2 separate regions of the Homo sapiens genome follow, and region 2 is linked to region 1. Evidence: fine-mapped expression QTL. A gene starts in region 1. The other region holds a variant in brackets. All regions are shown on one strand. Distances are between the middles of the regions.

Region 1 (5,369 bases):
CTAGCAGCTAGCTCCCAGCAAAGGCAAACTTCTTTCAAGAGGGAGACGGCAGATATGAGCCCCTAGACTCTTAGGGGAATAAGGTCTCATAGAGTCCGGTAGATTATATTCTTGCCCAGATTAAACAGACTCTTTCGGAAAGTCCCCTCTCCCTTGCTCTGGTCGGAATTAATTCAGTCTTGTCTCTGTGATCGCCACTGAAGAGCTTATCACCTCTGATCAAGGTGTGTTTAATTGGTCAGGCTCCCTAGCAGATTTTTTGAGGTCTGGAACTAAATTCGAGTCATTCTCCTATCTCAAACAAACCTCAAAACAAAAAGATTTTGATGTGGGCAATTCATTCACTCCTCACTGCACCTCTGAGGAGAGGTCTGCAGGAAGCTTCCCAGGGGAAAGTCTCCCTGTGGCTCAGAGAAGAAAGCACTTAAAAAGGAACCATGGCCGGGCACGGTATACTAGAAATAAGAAGAAAAAAGGATTAAAACATGCTCATGGCAGGTTGCGGTGGCTCACTCCTATAATCCCAGAACTTTGGGAGGCCAAGGCGAGTGGATCACCTGAGGTCAGGAGTTTGAGACCAGCCTGGCCAATATGGTGAAACCCTGTCTCTCCTAAAAATACAAAAATTAGCCAGGCATGGTGGCAGGCGCCTGTAATCCCAGCTACTTGGGAGGCTGTGACAGGAGAATCACTTGAACCCAGGAGGTAGAGGTTGCAGTGAGCTGAGATTGTGCCACTGCACTCCAGCATGGGTGACAGAGCTAGACTCCATCACAAACAAACAAACAAACAAACAGACAAACATGCTCATGGCCAGGCATGGTGGCTCACACCTGTAATCCCAGCACTTTGGGAGGCCAAGTCAGGCAGATTGCTGGAGTCCAGGAGTTTGAGACCAGCCTGGGCAACATGGCGAGATCCCCATCTCTACAAAACATTAAAAAAAATTAGTTGCATGCAATAACAAACCTGTAGTTCCAGCTACTTGGGAGGCGGAGGTGGGAGGATTGAACCCAGGAGATCGAGGCTGCCGTGTTCCTGCCACTGCACTCCAGCCTGGGTGACAGAGAGAGACCTTGTCTCACACATACACAAAAAAAGGAATCAGAAAGTAAGTTCCTACCCTTGGACTCTAGTCTCAGTGACTCAGTTTCTTCATCCATACTTGCAAAATAAGAAAGTAACCTCCACTTCATCACCTCCCTGGGTGGGTAAGAAGTCAAATGTGGTGACCCTCAGGACAGTCCAGTGTTTTGTAGATGTCTCCATCAGACATTTCATTCCTAGTGGTGGGGAAGCCTCGCCTCATTAAATGTCCTTTGGCCTCTGTTCAGCCTCCAGGAGTGGGTGTTCCAGTAGAATTCTTCTTTAGACTTTGAGTGTCTTCATTTAGCCAAAGGAAATCACAGAAAAGCTATATGACCCAGGCCAGAGATCTCAGAGTCTTCCTTGCCTGTGAGCAGGAGGGCTGCACAGCCCTGCCTATGGGCTGTGGCTCTGCTGTCAGCTCTTTCCTGAGGAATGCAGCCTGGGCCACCGCCTGTGAGGGCTCCTGCTGGGGGAGTCCATTCCCCTTCTCCCTTCCTCCATTTGCAATCACTATTTATTTATCTTTGGAAGTTCAAGGAACCAGAGAGCCTGCAACTGGGGGAGATCTGTGGAGCCAGGGAGGGAAAGTGAAGAAGCCAACATCTAGGCCCCTGCCTGCCGCCAACGCCAACGGGCAAGAGAAGAAAGCCATTCCCTGCATAGTCAGGGTAGACTTGGCTGACAGGCACAGGGGCCCTAGAAAAGGCACCACCGCACATCAGCAGGGCTAAGCTCACTAAAGAATGTGGCATTCACCTTGGGGACCGCTTGGGTGGTAGAGTGAAGGAGGGGGAACGGGAGTCCTGCCCCATCCCGGCAGCTCTATTAAGCAACAGAAAGGTGAGCTTCTGTGGGGAAACAGAGGAAGCAGACCCCTGGGCTGCACTTCTTACTGCCTGTCCCCAGCCCTGGTTCCGGTGTACTGCAGGCTGTTTTTTTTTTAATTAATTTATTTATTTATTGAGACGGAGTCTCACTTTGTCACCAGGCTGCAGTGCAGTGGCACGCTCTCAGCTCACTGCAACCTCCGCCTCCTGGGTTCAAGCAATTCTCGTGCCTCAGCCTCCCAAGTAGCTGGGATTACAGGCGCCCACCACGACGCCCGGATAATTTTTGTATATTTAGTACAGACAGGGTTTCATCATTTTGGCCAGGTGGATCTCAAACTCCTCACCTCAAGTGATCCGCCCGCCTCGGCCTCGAAAAGTGCTGGGATTACAGGTGTCAGCCACCGCGCCCGGCCTGCAGGCAGCTTTATACCCACCACTAGTTGTCAAGGTCACCCCTGCCACCACCAGTCCTCTGCCTTTGGAAACCATGTGCCCCTCCCCCCCACCACACTCTCTTATTCTAATGCCACGATTTACTGGGCATCTAATGCCACTCTATAAACTGGGGAGCAGGCAGAGCCCCATTTCAACCCCAGAGATCTGCTACCCCAGCAAGCTAGGGGCTGTGTCCAAGGTCAGACAGTAATGAGAGGCAGAGCCGAGTCTGGAATAGGGGTCTCCAGACTCACTGCGCAGTGCTCTTTCCACACCCTGCTGCAAAGCCCTGCTCCTTCTCATCTACTTTTCCCTTGTCCCACTCACTGTCCCCGAAACACACACACACACACACACACACACACACACAGCGTTGTGGAAAATGTAGGAGGCCCAGTCTAGCCTCTAGCCTTGTCTGCCTTGGCCTTTGACCTCTCCTTGGCCGAATGACATGCACCCCCCGCTGAGCGAGGTCACCGCAGCGGAGGAGGGTCTGCTGCCTCCTTGTCTCGGCTGCCATCCTCCTGCGGCTGCCTCCACCGGAGCTGGAAGGAGAGTGAGAGCCGACTTCCAGACTGATCATCGTGTCAGGGGCCAAAGGAAACCTCGGAGCCTTCCACCAAGTTCAACCCAAAACAGGGCGCCCCAGACGTCTCTGTCCAAGCCCGCGGGTCCAGGAGGGCCCCAGCAGCCTGGAGACGCAAGCTGCACCGGCACGGACGAGGGAAATTTTGTGGAAGGTGGTGGTGGTCGGCTCAGAGGTCTGAGATGGGTTGCGGAAAGGAAGGGTCCTGGCCCGGGGCGCGGGGACAAGCGGGAGAGGAGTGTTGGTGCAGGGCGGGCGCGGGGACGCAGGGTCCTCGAACCAGCTGGCCCGCCCCCACTCGGCAGAGGGTCTAGGCCTGGCCGCGTGTCGGTCGGCGCTAGGGCCCCGCGGAAGGCCCGGGCGGGCGGGGACCGGCGGCGGGAGCGGCGCGGCGCGGAGCTGCCTCCATCCATGGCACGGAGCGGCGGCGGCGGCGGCAGCAGGAGCCCGGCGCGATCCGCTAGGTCCCAGCCCAGCGCCCAGCGAGCAGGCGACGCGGAGGGGCCGGGCCTCCAGTGTCCCGAGGGCCGGGCGCTGAGACTCCGGCCGCGCAGCTGGGAGCTGCCCGCGCTGCGCTGACAGCCGCGCCGACGTCCTCCCCGCCGGGGCGCTCGCAGGACATGCCCCCGGGGCGCGGCGGCGGGGACCCCGGGGCTCGCCTCCGCCCAGGGCCCCCCTCCACGCCCTCGGGAGCCCCGGGCCCCCGCTGAGCACTCCTCCCGCACGCCTGGGTCCCTCCGGCCGGCGCGCAGCCCGGCCCCAGCGCTGTGGGTCCCCGCGGGGCGATGGGTTGATGGGCGCCGGGGGACGCAGGATGCGGGGGGCGCCCGCGCGCCTGCTGCTGCCGCTGCTGCCGTGGCTCCTGCTGCTCCTGGCGCCCGAGGCTCGGGGCGCGCCCGGCTGCCCGCTATCCATCCGCAGCTGCAAGTGCTCGGGGGAGCGGCCCAAGGGGCTGAGCGGCGGCGTCCCTGGCCCGGCTCGGCGGAGGGTGGTGTGCAGCGGCGGGGACCTCCCGGAGCCTCCCGAGCCCGGCCTTCTGCCTAACGGCACCGTTACCCTGTGAGTACCCTACCAGGCCAGTTCCGTCCGAGCCGGGACTGGGGACGAAGGGAGGCGAGACGGGAGGGGTGGGAGCAGGGGGAAGGGGGCTATCCCCCCACTTCAGAGATTTCTGGACAGGCCTGGGTTCAGGCCCCCAGAGGGGAAGATTGGAGGAGCAGGGGAGAGACTGGGGCTCCAGGAGCGTGGAGGCGGGAAGGGGCTGCGGGGGACAGGCGCACCCCAGAGAAAGGCACCGCAGGCGCCCACTCACCTGCACAGGTGAAGTGGAGAGCACGCCTGCAGGGCACCCACGCCCCGGATTTCCAGCCTGGACTAGGGTTGCGGACTTTGGGGACCTGAGAAGGGTGAGAGCGGGGAATGCTCAGGAAAGATCGACGCTCGTGGCCCAGGAGGGGGCTGTGGTCCTAACCACTACGGTCGCGTCCCGGACTGGGCTGGAGGAGTCTCCGGATTTACCTGGCTGGCCTTGTCCCTTCAATTGGGGTCATCCCATCCTTGCCCCCTGGCCTGCCAGCGCCGCTTCCAGCCGGTCTCCTTAGGGCAAGGGGAGGCTGGGCTCAGAAAAGTCGGCCCTTGGAATACCGGCGCTCCTGGGCTGCAGGAGACCCTGGCGTCCCCATCCCTCTAGAGGCCCCTCTCCCACGGCGCCGTTTGTGCAGTGAGCTCTGTGCTGGGTCCCGCGTCCTTGCCTCTCCTTTGCCTCTCCTGGAAGTAACTCGAGCTTTGGCTGTTTCTCCATTGACTTCGCGCAAAGATTGCGAAGAAAGAAACGCGGCTGGGGAAGCGGGGTTCCCTCACCGCAGCCCACCCGGGCCTCCTTCCGCGACTTCCCTCTTAGTCAGGGCCTCAGTACGCCTTTGCTTTGCTGGCAGCGAGCGCTGCAGCGCCGCAGCCCGACCCCAAGCCTCCTACAAGGGGGTCGCAAGTCCCAGCAGCCGCGCGAGCATTGGCGACCCCTCCCCACCGCAGAGATTTCCTGCGCCGACCACGTGCTCGCAGCTCCACGCACGCCGTGGATTTGAGGGTCGGGCCCCCGCGGCCGCCGCTTCCTTTCCTGTCCCAAATCCAGCCTAAGAGCCGCTTCCCTTTCCCTGTCCTCCTGACCCCAGTGGCAACCGTTTCTCCACCGCCCCTTGCCCGCAGTCGGGGCTGGCCCAGTCTTTTCGATTGTGTCCAGAACAATACAGTAACGCCTCTGGTTGGGTGAGTTCAGAGGCTGCCCGCTTCCTGACAGGACACAACTGGTCAGCCTCTGACGCTGGCCGCCCGGCCTGCATTTTCCCCGGCCCGGGTGTGTGTGTGCATGTGTGTGCCTTAAGGGTGGAGGCGGTGTGTCTGCTCGCTGCCGCCTCCCTGCTGCTCAGGGT
Region 2 (5,369 bases), 86 kb before region 1:
AGACCAAGGCAGGCGGATCATCTGAGGTCAGGAGTTCGAGGCCAGCTTAGCCAATGTGGTGAAACCCTGTCTCTACTAAAAATATAAAATTACAATATAAAATTACAAAAAAATACAAAAATTAGCTGAGCATGGTGGCACACACCTGTAATCCCAGCTACTTAGGAGGCTGAGGCAGGAGAATCACTTGAACCAAGGAGGCAGAGGTTGCAGTGAGCCGCCACTGCACTCCAGCCTGGGTGACAGAGTGAGACTCTGTCTCAGAAAAAAAAAAAAAAATTGCCCAAGATCTCACAGTTAAAGAGCATGAAGCCAGGATTCTAATATGGTTCTGACTCTAAAACTCTTTACACTTAGCCAAGCAGCTTCAGACTTTGTATGTTGGCAGGCCTAGATGCTATGGATAAATGGAATAAGGGTGCCTGCTCCCTGGAAAGTTCTGGCTGTGCCTGTGTGTGTTGGGACCAGTTGACTATGTACAATTCAAATGAAATTGGTCCTGCCCCAAACAAGAGCTGAGATGCTGGTCAGTGCATTGGGTTTGAGCATTCAGTAAACATTTACAGACCACTACCTACTAAGTATTTTGGTCTGCTCTGGGAATTCAAAAGATGGAGGAGATACTGGCCTTGCCACAAGGAGTTTGCAGTCAAATGGGAGATTGGTGTATAAACTAAGATATCACATTATATCTTAGCCCACACTGGCCAGGCACATTGGCTCACACCTGTAATCCCAACACTTTGGGAGACTGAAGTGGATGGATCACTTGAGGCCAGGAGTTCGAGACCAGCCTGGACAACATGCCAAAACCCCATTTCTACAAAAAATACAAAAATTAGAGAGGCCTGGTGATGCTTGCCTGTGGTCCCAGCTACTCAGGAAGCTGAGGTGGGAGAATCACCTGAGCCCGGGGAGGTCAAGGCTGTAGTTTGCCACGATTGTGCCACTACACTCCAGCCTGGGCAACAGAGCAAGACCCTGTCTCCAAAAAAAAAAAAGAGAGAGAGAGATAATGTGCTGAGGACTCTATTAATGCCATTGCAGTAATCAAGAGTATAGGCTAGGTTATACGGTGGTAACAAATTAACACACAAATCTCAGTGGCTTAACACAACAAAGTCCTCTTTTTTTTTTCCACTTATACTGTGTATCCATTGTGAATTGACGGGGATCTCTATCAGTCAGTGTTCAACCAGAGAAGCAGAAGCAGTAATATATGGAGTCATTTATTTCAAGGCGTTCACTTACGCAATCATGGCTAGCTAAGTGAGTTGGAAGTCTGTAGGGCAGGCAGACAGGAAGGGAAGATCACAAGCCAGCATCACAAGACACCCTGCTGGCTTGAGCCATGTGGAGTCTCTGAGAACAAGGAAGGCCTAAGCCCCCTTTTAAAGGGCTTGCTTCATTAGGTCAGGCCCACCCTAGATCACTTCTCTTTTGATCAACTTAAAGTCAACTGATTAGGGACTTCAATCACATTTGCAAAATTCCTTCACAGAAGCACCTAGATTCTTGTTTGATTTAGTAACTGGGGACTGGAGTTCAATCTAACCAAACCGATGCATCAGAAAGCATCAACTGTGCCACATAATTAATCAGGGCCACATAATTAATCAGGCCCACTGACTGGCAGAGGAACACACACAGAGGAAGAGCCGGAGCATCTCACACAAACAATCACATGTTGCAGGCCAAAAATGAATATGTCACCTCTGCTCACAATCTTCTGGCCAGCACTGGTCCCATGGCCCCTCCTAACTGCAAGGGTGGCACATTGCTTCTCCCTGGTGCCAGAGGAGAAGGAGGCCTGGAGGTGAGTCCACCCCAGCTGTTGTCTCGGCAGCTTCGATACTGCCCTGTCTGTGGTCATTTTACTCTCCTCCACTCTGCTTCCCAGACCTTACCAAACAGAAGCCCTTCCAAACCCACTGAGCCCTATCTACCTGGAGAAAGCTTAAAAGCTTACATCTGAAATTGTAGGAAACACAGGTGCATCTGGGGATGGACTGCTCTAGCCAGACTAGGCTGTCTCCACTAAGGTTAGGACAGAAGGCTCAGGCCTATGAGACCCTGAAGTTCATAGAAATTTGTGACCTTCTGCATACTTTGTAGTACTGAGACCTCCACCTGGTGGCTTGCAGAGGATCACCTATTTGAGCATGGAGGCAGCATATTGGCAAGCCCTCCTAACGAGAAGGATAGGCATCTTTGGTGTATTGGACTCTAACAATGCTTGCATCTGTGAAACTTACAAAAAGCAGAGGATTGATACAAAGTGATAATGATCCATGGTCACTGACAAACAAGAGCTGTCAATAGAATGCTGCTGTAAGTTCAAATGAAGAAGTCTGAGCATCGCAGACCAGATATGAGCCTTTTTCTTTCTCTAACATTTATTGAGCTCTTGCTGTGTGCCAGGCACTGTGCTGAGCACTTTGCATAGAAGCTTTCCTTGAATCCTGGCAGCAATTCTCTGCAGCAAGTCTATTGTTGGATGTATCTTGCCTAAGGCCACAAAACCAGTAAGCAGTAGAGGCAAGATTCCTACCAAGGCTATCTGGTTATAAAAACCTGTCTACCTGTGGCCAGGGCCACCCTTCACATACTATTGTGCAGGCAATGCCCCACAGGACAGCATCTGGCCAAGGGAACAACTGGGAGCTCCACAGACACCAGACCTGGGACTGCATCAGCTTGGAAGGGGGCCTTCTTCTAAATCTTCCAAAGGTGCCACGTGGCTGGGGGTAGGATAGGGGGAGCCCTGCTAACCTCTGGCCCTCTCTTCTAAAGACCATAGATCAGAAAGGAGCCCTTCAATCCCCTGATCACCTCCTGATGGTCACAGTTGAGCCTTACAGTGTGTGGAATGCTAATTGTCAATCAAAAGCAGTTCTGAAGAACCTATTATGTGTGCTAAATGCTATTGGAGGATGGAAGATGCACAGGACATGCCCCAGACATCAAACTGTTTACAATCAATAGGGAAACCCATACAAGCACATACTAGTTA[T/C]GCAAAGTAAAGTACGATCACAAGTGAAGGGGACCCACATAAAGTACAAGGTATTTAGAGCATCCTCGGAGCTGGAAGGGATCATCATTCACTCAGCCCCAGAGGAGAAAGGAGAGGTCTTCGAGGCCAGTGGGGCAGCCAGAGCCAGGCCCAAGGCGGGACAGCGCAAGCTGTGTTGCGGGACACCTCTCCCACTCACACAAACCAGCTTCTGTGTGCGGAGAGCACAAAGGTACACTAAGTATAACTTAAGGAATTCAGGTCTTCAGGGCCACACGCAGAGGTGCAGCCACCCAGCAACCTGGCCAAAGAAGGGGCAACAGCCTCACTGCAGAGAAGGGGCACAATTCAAAGCCTGCCACAGAGAAAGGTAAGGCTCTCTGCACAGGTAGCATGGGGCCTGCAATTGAAACCTGTGTCACGCTCGCCGGGGCTGACTCCCCTAGTCCCAGCCACTCACTGTGGGCTCCCCTGTCCCCAGGGCCCACCCTCCTGGCTCTGTGACTGCTTCAGGGCACACAGCACAGAGAGGAGGTCTCAGGAGGCTCGTGATGGTCACACTGACAGGTAGGGCTTTCACTCCCATCCCCTCTTGATACTCACCTGCCGCCCCCGACCCCTCTCCCTTCTTTGAAAGTATTGGAGAAGAAAATGATCTTAGACAGAATCCTTCTTGGCAACCCTTGCCCCTCACCATAATCTTCCCCTTCCTGCCCCTTCCCCAGTGCCATTCTTCCCCCAACACACACACACACACACACACACACACACACACGTTCCCTCTCACTCTCACCTCCTTTCCCTCCCCCACCCCTTCCCCTCCATTTGTTTCAATGAACAGCCCCTTTTATCTATTCTGTAGGTACAAATGAAGCTGTCAAATTTGATCAGGCGCTTGATATGACAGGCTGTGGGAGTCAGGACCCCTTGAACAGAGTGGGCCTTGTCTGTCACAGTCCGCCTGACACTTCCCATAATGCCCAGACTGATGAGATTCTGAGTAGGGCCCAGCACATTTTCAACTCTATTTTGGGTGAAAACCCTTCTTGAAAGATCTTGAAAGGAGCTGGCAGTTCAGCCGCCCGGATGATTAATGAGGGTTGGCTCTGCAGGATGGATTTCTCCTGGTGCCAACAGCCGGCCTCCAAACAGGCTAGAACGTGTTGCCGTGGACTTCCCCAGCACTTCCCCTCATGGTGACACCCCCCAAAAAACCTTTCCCATTCCCCAGGCCGCCCCTCACCTCCACCACAGTCCCTCTGGCTGTGCATCTCCCGCGGCCCTCTCTCGTGTTTCTGAAGCGGGAGCAGCCTTTGCATATGGAAAAAGTTAGGCATCACGGCTGAGTGAGGCCTGGCTGAGTGAGCCAGGCCTGCCAGAAATCTGTACAGAGTGGCGGGGCGCTGAGGGAGGGTGGAGAAGAAACAGAAGGGGATGGTGACCCAGGCTCTCCTTCAGCTTACGTCCCATGCCCTGATGGTCAGGGACGGGCCTCTCTGCTTTCTCTCCATGCAACTCAGGAGCTCTAGGGACAGAAACCATGGAGTGTCTAAGGCCCCAAAGGGATCCAGCATCAAAGTCCCTGCTTTTCACTTACCCCACAGTATTTATTAAAGGAGACACTCTTGATATTTGGGCAAGACACTTCTTTACTGAGCAGGACCCTTCTGTGCAAGGTAGAAGGTTTAGCATCCTTAGTCTCAAGATACCAATTGCTTGTAATGCCTCTCAACCATGAGGACCATCAGAATAATCCAGATGCCCTTGGCGGTGGTATCAGCCTGGGTTGAGAGCCACTATTAGGGTGAAGAGCCTCCCTCGTCCCCACATGCCTTGAGAGCTACGCCCACTTCGGTGTCTCCTTCCACTCTCATTTACACCCCTCAAGCCCACTCAGCAGGGAGAGCACTTTGAAGAGGGGTAAGGAGATGAGGGTGTTCTCCCATGCACCTTTTTTTTTTTTTTTTTTGTGAGACAGAGTCTAGCTCTGTCACCCAGGCTGGAGTGCAGTGGCCCAATCTCGGCTCACTGCAGCCTCTGCCTCCCAGGTTCAGGCAACTCTCCTGCCTCAGCCTCCCAAGTAGCTGGGATTATGGGATTACAGGCATGCGCCACCATGCCTGGCTAATTTTTGTATTTTTAGTAGAGACGGGATTTCACCATGTTGGCCAGGCTGGTCTTGAACTCAAGTGATCCACCTACCTCAGCCTCCCAAAGTGCTGGGATTACAGGTGTGAGCCACCACGCCCAACTCTCCCATGCACTCTTAATGCTAACTTTCCTTCTGTGCTGGTGCCTTAAACCACCCCTGCTCTAGACTCTGTTCCCCCACCTCCTTCTGTTTCCCTGTCTTCCC

The links. PIP is the estimated chance that this variant, and not a neighbour inherited with it, causes the effect. A credible set is the group of variants that fine-mapping cannot tell apart.
Region 2: its variant is the best candidate, but not a certain one, in a credible set for the expression of ADGRA2 in whole blood (INTERVAL, PIP 0.89).

The regions. Positions count from the first base shown.
Region 1 is chr8:37,793,536-37,798,904 of GRCh38, forward strand. ADGRA2 (adhesion G protein-coupled receptor A2) reads left to right here and starts at 3,348. Exons shown (of 19, transcript NM_032777.10): 1 at 3,348-3,999. The coding sequence starts at 3,734. RefSeq lists enhancers at 1,778-2,343, 2,344-2,909 and silencers at 3,173-3,412, 3,423-3,592, 3,873-3,962.
Region 2 is chr8:37,707,256-37,712,624 of GRCh38, forward strand. No RefSeq gene overlaps it. Among named protein-coding and RNA genes, the nearest start is that of ZNF703, 14 kb to the left of the region's middle. The variant T/C (reference allele first, on the strand shown) is at 3,014.